Regions from separate parts of the Homo sapiens genome. Here region 1 is linked to region 2. A link means that fine-mapping ties the variant in region 2 to the expression of a gene that starts in the linked region. Tissue or cell type: minor salivary gland. Region 2 holds a variant in brackets; the other region holds the start of a gene. All regions are shown on one strand. Distances are between the middles of the regions.

Region 1 (4,239 bases), 83 kb after region 2:
ATGTCAGACTGACAATTTTTAAAAGTTAATGAAAGATACTGAGTACATCAGTGGACTAGAAATGAGATACTCACATTATCTGATTTTTCCCTCATCTTGTTTCAAACTGAAAATATCTGGGACCAGTGGGAGAAAATTTGATACAGCAACAAAATAAATATCATTCTGATTTTATAAAATGGAACTGGCTTAATTTTTCTTTTCATTATATGGAACTACCAGGATGCTAAACATTTGGGGAGTTATTGACAGAGACAGATAGGATTGACTTTATGAAGATCAAAATGAGAGAAAGTATAATTTATAATAAGTTCAGGAGAAAATTGCTGAAGAACACTATGGTTTCTTCATTTTCTCAAAGTTGTAAGGAAGAATTGGTAGAAACCAAGATTCTTGAGTAACAGAAATTTTGTTTTGATTACTGAATAATAAAATTGTTACTATGCTAACAAAACATGTCATTAATTCAAAAGAAGATCAGGAAGAAAAGAGAACTTAGAAAATGGAGACAAACAGAAAGCACAAAATAAAATAGTACTCTATATCTAAACCCAACTATATTAGTTATTATATTAAATGTAATGAGCTGAATTCTCCAATTCAAATACAAAAATAGAAAAAAAATTCAGTTATATCATGCATACAAAGAACACATCCAAAATATGAGAATATGGAAAGGTTTTAAGTTTCTAAGAATGTAAAACGATGGGAAAATACATCATTCAAATGTGAACCAAAAAACTGTATTAAAGTAGTAATATTAATATTTGATCATAAAAACTTTAAGGTAGGCCAAGGCGGGCAGATCACGAGGTCAGGAGATCAAGACCAGCCTGGCCAACATGGTGAAACCCTGTCTCTATCAAAAATACAAAAAAATTAGCTAGGAATAGTGGCACACACCTGTAATCCCAGCTACTTGAGAGGCTGAGGCAGAAGAATCGCTTGAACCTGGGAGGTGGAGGTTGCAGTGAGTTGAGATCGCACCATTGCACTCCAACCTGGACGACAGAGCAAGACTGCATCTCAAAAAAAAAAAAAAAAAAACTTTAAGGTAAAAATAATTAATGTATATAAGGAGGGTAATTTAAAAATAAAAAATTGTTAAAGTTTTTGAAAATATAATAATTTAAAATTTATGTGCTCTTCATAACATGGCCTCAAAATGTATAAAGGAAAAATTGACAGAAAAAGAAATAATGGGTAAATTCACAATTATAATGAAAACTTTTAATACATCTTTTGAAATAATTGATACGTAAAATTTGGACTACACAATAAATCCATTTGATTTAATAGATTGATTGATTGAATGATCGGTCTATCTAAAATATTGCATCCAACAAATGTAGAATGCACATTCTTTTCAACACTCATGGAATATTTTCAAAAATTGACCATATAGTAGAATATAAAGGAAGCTTTAGCAAATATATAAGGAGAGAACTCAGTTAAGATGTGTGATCTGATCTTAGTGCAATTAATAAAAAATAATAACATAAGTATATATTATGTATAATAATATAAAAGTTCAAAAGACAATAATAATAAAAACAGAAAATTCCCATATGTTTGGATGTGGTAGTGGTTGAGAGGCATGCATAGGACACAGATGTAAAAAGGACACTGTCTTGGTTTGCTGTATGTATTCAGGGATTGTTTAAATTTATTTAAGAAGATATTCACATAGTACTCATGCAATAGAAAAAGCTACTTTGCTGTTGCAGAAAATTTTACTCATACTCCTTCCTTTTCTCTGCCAATGCTAAATAAATTCTTAACCCAAAAGGGTGATTTTTAAAAGACACATGTTCTTTTCAACATAGTTATAAGTTGGACGCAGATTTGGATAAGCTCTCAGTAGTTCATCTGCAGCTGTGTACAAACTTTATCCCGGGTTGTTCAGGCCCAACACAGCTACTCTGAGACCAGATAACTAAAAAAACTAAAAAGAAGCTATACTGCTTTAAGTGAAGAAAGCTCCAGCCCTCAGGTGGAGTCATTTCCGGGCCCTGTGATAAAGCTCAGCTGGGAGGCTCCTCAGTCATTACTACAGGGCAGGAAGGGCACGTTCTCATCAGCATGGTAAGTGACTACACGCCTATGCATTGTTGTAGGAAATTTTACTAATCATATTTGGCCCTTTTCCCACAGCAAACAATTCTTAATAAAATTGTAATGCAAGAGAAGACATTTGTAAAGAAACATTTGTTTCTTTCAATGTCCAAGTAGATGAGTTGGGAGCAGATGTGGACAGGCTGTAATCTATTCCTCTGTAATGTTGCTTCTTTCAAGGTAAAGCTCAGTTGATTTGCAGTAGCTCACTGCCATTAATTGAAGCACTGAAGCAAAAACCTTTCCTTCCTTTAGTTTTCACCTTTGTTTTAGGCCCAGAGTGCTGATTTTTCTGTAGATATTCATTGCTTCACTTTTCGTTAGGCTGTTAAGAGTTTCTGAGGACTTCAGACTTAGGTAACCGTGGCTAACCTCATAAATGCCTGGCAGGGTAAAGTGCGCAGACATCTTCTTTGCCCTCCCTTGAGTTTAGTTCTTTGGGCACCACAATGAATAGAATAACTTACAATAATTCTGTTTTGGGATGACCTTTTCAGATCCATTTGCCCTTTATTTTTTTCTGTGCCAGTTTTTCAGTATCTTTGAATTTTTAATTCTTCAATGGAAGCAACATTTCGAACTGCTTCTTGATCTTTGATTTCTCACCCCATTGGTCTCTCTGTCCAACATTTAAAAAATTTTAAATTGTTTTGCTTTTAAAAATTATGCCTTTCAACATGAGAGAGACTTGTGATAATAGCATGTTCTGTATCTTATCACTGTCAACATTCTGGGTGTGATTTTGTATTATGGTCTTGCAAGATGTTTCCACTGCGGGAAATGGGTAACGGATGCAAGGGATCTTCCTATGTTATTTCTCACAGCTGCATATCAATCTACAAAGACCTCAAAATTGAAAGTTTAACTGAGAGTTATGCTTTTCTAGTAATTCAAATAATCCTTATAGCAGCGTTTAATAATGTGCTATGACTTATCAGTGTTGACGTTCAGTGGACATTTTATAGTCTTCTACTTTATAGTGTGACTAATATTTTCATAGAGAATTTGGAAAAAAAGGGAGAGGCTAAGAGAAGAATAAGGCAAAGATAGTCTTCTACACCCTTGGACAGAGTTATGTTATAAGCTAAGCTCCTTCAAAGACGAAGGATGCTTGTTAGTCCAGGCTATTCGTGCTGATTTCAAAAAGAACAGCATCACTCTGCTTTCTGAGTCACTTGAACAGACCACGTGAAGAGGAACAATCTTTTTTTTTTTTAATGTTAGTGATTATTTTTACTGTGACTATTATGAACAAATACCACATGTACACCTGAATTTTACTCGTCACTGTAACACAGGACTGGGTGGTAGCCAGTGGAGAAGACAGAGAAATCTACATGTAAACTTTACAAAGTAAGAGGTTTTAATGATGTAGAAACAATGAACGTTCACCCTCTCCTTTTAAAATGTTAACTTAAATTTAAGGAGCCAAGTTTTGATCAGATTACAGCAGCTGATGTATTTGCAGCACTTTAAGTCCGACAGAAGGGGAGAGGAATAAGATTAAGGTTATCTGAAGCCTGATAAGGGGTATTCGAAGCCTGTTTATAACAGAATATGCTGTCTTGAGAGGTGGAATATTAGTTTGTCCTAAATGAAGTGCTTTCTAAATTAGAGAGACTGATAGTTGCACAGAAAATAAACAAGATGGAAGCCCTACTAAGGTAGTGAACTTGAATTGGTCATGAAGCAGAGGGCTGTTATGCCTTGTGAATCACAGAGACAAAGTACAAAGGTTTGATGCCATTGAGCATGAACAGAGTCCAAGTCAGATTGCAGGGGTGTGGCCGACCAGAGCCCTCTCCTTACTTTCCTCTGACTAGTGGTCTGTGTAGACCAGTGGTCCTCAACTTTTTGGCACCAGGAACCAGTTTTGTGGGACACAATTTTTCCATGGAGTCGGCAGTGGGGATGGTTTCTGGATGAAACTGTTCCACCTCAGATCGTCAGGCATTAGTTAGATTCTCATAAGGAGCACACAACCTAGATCCCTTGCATGCGCAGTTCACAATAGGGTTAGTGCCCCTATGAGAATCTAATGCTGCCGCTGATCCGACAGGAGGCAGAGCTCAGTCAGTAATGCTCACTCACCTGCTGCTCACCTCCTTCTGTAAAGCCCAGTTC
Region 2 (4,239 bases):
TTCTGCATGAAACCCTCCACATGCACTGTGATGGCACGACCTGGCAGGCTCCTTTGCCCGGGAGGCCTCATCTCCAGCATGGGGGAGATGGCTTCCGTAGTGCTGATGGGATTAAAGGAAATCTTCACAGAGTTGTACTCTGCAACAAGAGGAAGAGTCAGAAATGCAACTGCAGAGAGAGGACTCCTGTCTTGTTCTCTCTTTTTGTTGTCCAAGAACCATGAAAATAGTCCTCGTATGATCACAAAATCCCAACTCATCCCCTCTTGGTCCAAACATAGGGAGAATCAAAGGCATGTCACCCTGCCAGGTAGTCAAAGATGTGGACTCCAGACCTCTAAGACCAGCTTTTAAGAGTTCAAGCCATTGTTTCTCTCTCCACAGTGGGTCCCCCTTTTATAAAAACAACAACAACAAAACTCATCAAGAACAGATTCCCAACAGGTATGGTGATCATGTGTTCCAGAAACAATTTAGGTAGAGTATTCTATCTCAGTTTCTCTGGAAATGAGTCCAGCTTTTAGTTTTTGCATGTGAACCACGGCCGCAGTGCCTAGGCTGCGCAGGTCGCCCTCCGTTCCCGCTGGAGAAGCAGGTGAGGCCTTCCCAGCCTGGGCCCAGTGCAGTCAGGCCCTGCCCAGCCCACAGATGCCTGCACCTTGCTCCTCCCCTGGCTTCCCTCTCACGTGGCTGCAGCTGGGGCAAAGGCCCAACGACTCCTTCTGTAAGCTTCTTCTTGCTTTTGCACTGTTTACCATCTCCAGGTGTGAGCTCATCTCTTTCCCCACCACAGGTGGCCCCACCCGATCTCAGCTCTGCCTTTCCCGCCTCTCTGCTGGGTTGCATAAGCCAGCGATTCCCAACCCCGGCTGCACCTGGAAGCTACCCCAGGAGCTTCTGGAGAATGTGCCGTGTGAGCCATCCCCCTGCACTGAGCCCTGGTGGGTCAGCGGTGGGGGCGCCCAGGCGTGGGGGTCTATTTAAAGCTCCCAGGTGCTGTGCGGCCAAGATTAAGAGGCACTGCTCCAAACTGTCCTGGCAACTCTGACTGTACCCGGCACTCCCCACGCCCAACCTCCCTTCTGCCCCTGGGCAGGTTGGCATCCAGTGTCGGGGAGAACCCTGGAGGCGAACGCCAGCCTTATAGAGCCCCACTGTTGGGAGGCCTGCAGGTTGGACAAGGCGAGGTCTGAGTCACCTTGGTTGGGAGCAGATGCTGCCCTGTTGGTGGCCTGCCAGCCTCTGTCCCCACCCCACCACTCAGAGACATGGTGTGCCTGCACTTTCCTGATCCGGGAGCTCCTGCCTTGCTGCCCAGATGACCTTTGGCCTAGGAAGAAGTCAAATCTCAGTGTTTTGGACCGGGCACGGTGACTCACAACTGGAATCCCAGCACTTTGGAAACCCGAGGTAGGTGGATCACTTGAGGCCAGGAGTTCGAGACTAACCTGGCCAACATGGTGAAACCCCATCTTCACTAAAAATACAAAAATTAAGGCGTGGTGGCAGGCACCTATAATCCAAACGACTCAGGAGGCTGAGGCAGTTGAATTGCTTAAACCTGGGAGGCGGAGCTTGCAGTGAGCCGAGATCGCACCACTGTACTCCAGCCTGGGCGGCAGAGCAAGACTCCGTCTCAAACAAAAACAAAAACAAAACAAACAAAAACAAATCTCAGTGCTTTTGATGAACAGTATTTTCCTGCACCGGGAGCCTTGTGGTCGTGGCTTCATGGAGGAGGTGTTGGTGACTTTCATTCACTCACTCACTATTCTACAAGTGTTTCCTTGGGTGCTTCTCCTTACTGTGAGTCTGCAGGGACTTGGAGGGAGACGCTGCGCCGGCCTCTGGGCCCAGGAGATGTAACATAAATGGCCATGCAAAGACAGTGGGTCAGGTCCCTCGTCAGTGGATTCCCATTCGAGGAGGTGCTCAGAGAAGGGGACAGACTTCCAGGAAGTGGCACTGAGGCGGGGGCAGATTTCAACAGGGGTGGGGCGTTCTTGGTGAGGAAACTGCATGAGTGACGGTTTGGAAGTGGGAGCGTCAGTGTCTTTTGGGGAGCCCGCGCTGCCTGGGAGGTAAGGGAGAGGTCCGAATGCCGTCGCAGACAGCCTGATGGTTTGCTGAAGGAGTCTGGATCCTTTTCAAGTCCCAGTGAAGCCTGGTGATATGGCCTTGGGCAAGTCAGTGGCTCTCTCTGCCTCAGTCTCCTCAACTGTAGCTGGGGGTAACAGTGAGACCCGCCTCAACGTGGTTGTGAGGAGGGTGGGGGGTGGGGGATGTGGAGAAAGTGCTAAGAACAGCGTCTGTGGGGCCGCAGAAGTGTTTTGCATAATGTCACCAAGATTAGTGCTATTTCTTCCCCAGAAGATCAGATGGAGACTCACGGAAGGTTTTTAACCTGTGGGGACGTGCGGCCAAATTGTGCTTTAGGAAG[C/A]TTATGCTGGCAGTGATGTGTGGTATGAAGGAGGGCAAGGGAGATGGGCCCTGTAGGAGGCAGATTCGGCCACCTAAGCCTGAGCTGATTAGGACAGGAGGGAAGGTGGAGGCAGTCAGCAGAGAAAGGAAGGGACGTGGGGAGGGGAAGCAGAGAGGAAGGCGTTGGAGGGACAGGGCCTGACTTAGTAACCCCGGGGCCTTGAGCAGTTCTGGACGAGGTGGGAGGGGAGTGAGCAGGGGACGGGAGAGACTCCAGCCCCACCAGGCTGAGCCGTGTCCACACCCTGCCGGGTCAGAGTTACTGCTGGTACCATCGGGAGGGTGGGCCAACCAGGCCCATCTGGCCTCTTGCCTGTCAGATGGTGGAAGCATGTCAGAGTTCTCAGAATCCTGGAGCCACTGAGAGCCGGAGGAGCCCTTGTCCAAGACTCAGGCTGTGATCGGAACAGGGTAGAAGGTGCTGCTTCTAACCCTGGGGCCTGCCTGTCTCCAGAATTTGGAGAAAAGGAAAGTCCTGGACTCCTCTCAAGCCAGGAAGGTGCTGACCAGGAGGGGAGGGTCAGGGAGAGGGGAGTCAGCAGGGACAGCTGCCTCTCCTCCGCCTGCAGGCCCAGGCCCTTCCTAATCTCCAGCTCCACCAGCTTCAAGGCAGAATCTGAATCCACACAGAGTCTGAGGTATCTTGGAAACCCTCTCCTTCCCTCTTGGATGTGTGGACTGTCAGACATTGTGAAGAGGAGAAGAGGAAGAGGAAAGACGCTGCCCCCAGTATGCAGACAGAGAGCACCCCGTTCCAGAGAGGCCAGCGCTCCAGGAGTGACAGCTGCTAATGCCCTTCTTCCTTCAGTCTCCCTGCCCCAGCTACCCTCTCCCTCCCTCCTCTCCCTCCTTCCCTTTCTTCCCGCAGCAAAACACACGGAGCCCAGTGATCTGCAGGCACAGTGCCGGGCCCTAGCGCTCCATGGGCACAAGTGACAGCTGTGGCCGAGGTCGGGGAGGGTGCTGGACTGGAAGCCTTGGGAGGCTCTGAGCACACAGGATTTGGGGCTGATACTATTGAGGGTCAGAGGCTGCTGGACTGGGTTGTAAAGCATCTGAGGCTTTGAAGACCATTTGGATAATTGGGTGTTGCAGGCTCAGGGTGAGTTTGGGGCTTCCTGGAGACTTTGGGGTGCAGAGTAGCCCCTTCCCAGGCCGGCTCTCTGCCTGCCTTTGGACCTGGGATGTTTCTGCTGGGAAGCAAGTGGACTGGTGCCTTGGAGAGGATGCCTGTGGGGAGGGGCTGGACTGCTCACAGGGCCTCCTGATCCTCGTTTCTCAGTGTCACTGATGTTCAATTCTGAAAGTTCTGCCTTTAGAGTTATCTCAATAGCCCAATGTGCCTCCTTCCTGGCATGGTTGTCCAGGGGCAGACACCCTTCTGGGGTTGGCCTGTTTGGGAGAAGCCTGAGATCTGCAGAGAAGTCTGCCAGGCGGCCTGGGACTAAAAGCTGCAGAAGGTGGGGCATGAGGAAGCAGTGGGCAGGCAGAAGGAGTGGGCAGGTGGTCTGCTGCTGCCTCGGGGATGCAGCTTGAGCTGGACTTTCTGCCTGGCTCCGTCTTGTCACCGAGTTCGCAGCATAAACGTCATCCCTCAGAGACGCTGACTCGATCTCTAATAAAAGCTATCAGCCTGTCCCCCTTTACTACGAGACCCCTCTTAGCTCTGCAGAGCATCCATCACAGTTAGGCATTTTTGCCTTTTTTTCCATCCACCCACGCTTCCCACCCCACCAGGACGTGAGCTTGGACTTCATC

Direction of the effects. Alleles are on the strand shown, and positions count from the first base shown. SD is a standard deviation of normalised expression in the study named.
In carriers of allele A in region 2, the expression in minor salivary gland of the gene that starts at base 2,047 in region 1 tends to be higher than with C alone (small effect, 0.36 SD a copy in GTEx).

What was found. PIP is the estimated chance that this variant, and not a neighbour inherited with it, causes the effect.
Region 1: TUBAL3 starts here. The variant in region 2 is the best candidate, but not a certain one, in a credible set for the expression of TUBAL3 in minor salivary gland (GTEx, PIP 0.74).

What each region holds. Positions count from the first base shown.
Region 1 is chr10:5,402,636-5,406,874 of GRCh38, reverse strand. TUBAL3 (tubulin alpha like 3) reads left to right here and starts at 2,047. Exons shown (of 4, transcript NM_024803.3): 1 at 2,047-2,085. The coding sequence starts at 2,083.
Region 2 is chr10:5,485,446-5,489,684 of GRCh38, reverse strand. No RefSeq gene overlaps it. Among named protein-coding and RNA genes, the nearest start is that of CALML5, 12 kb to the left of the region's middle. The variant C/A (reference allele first, on the strand shown) is at 2,441.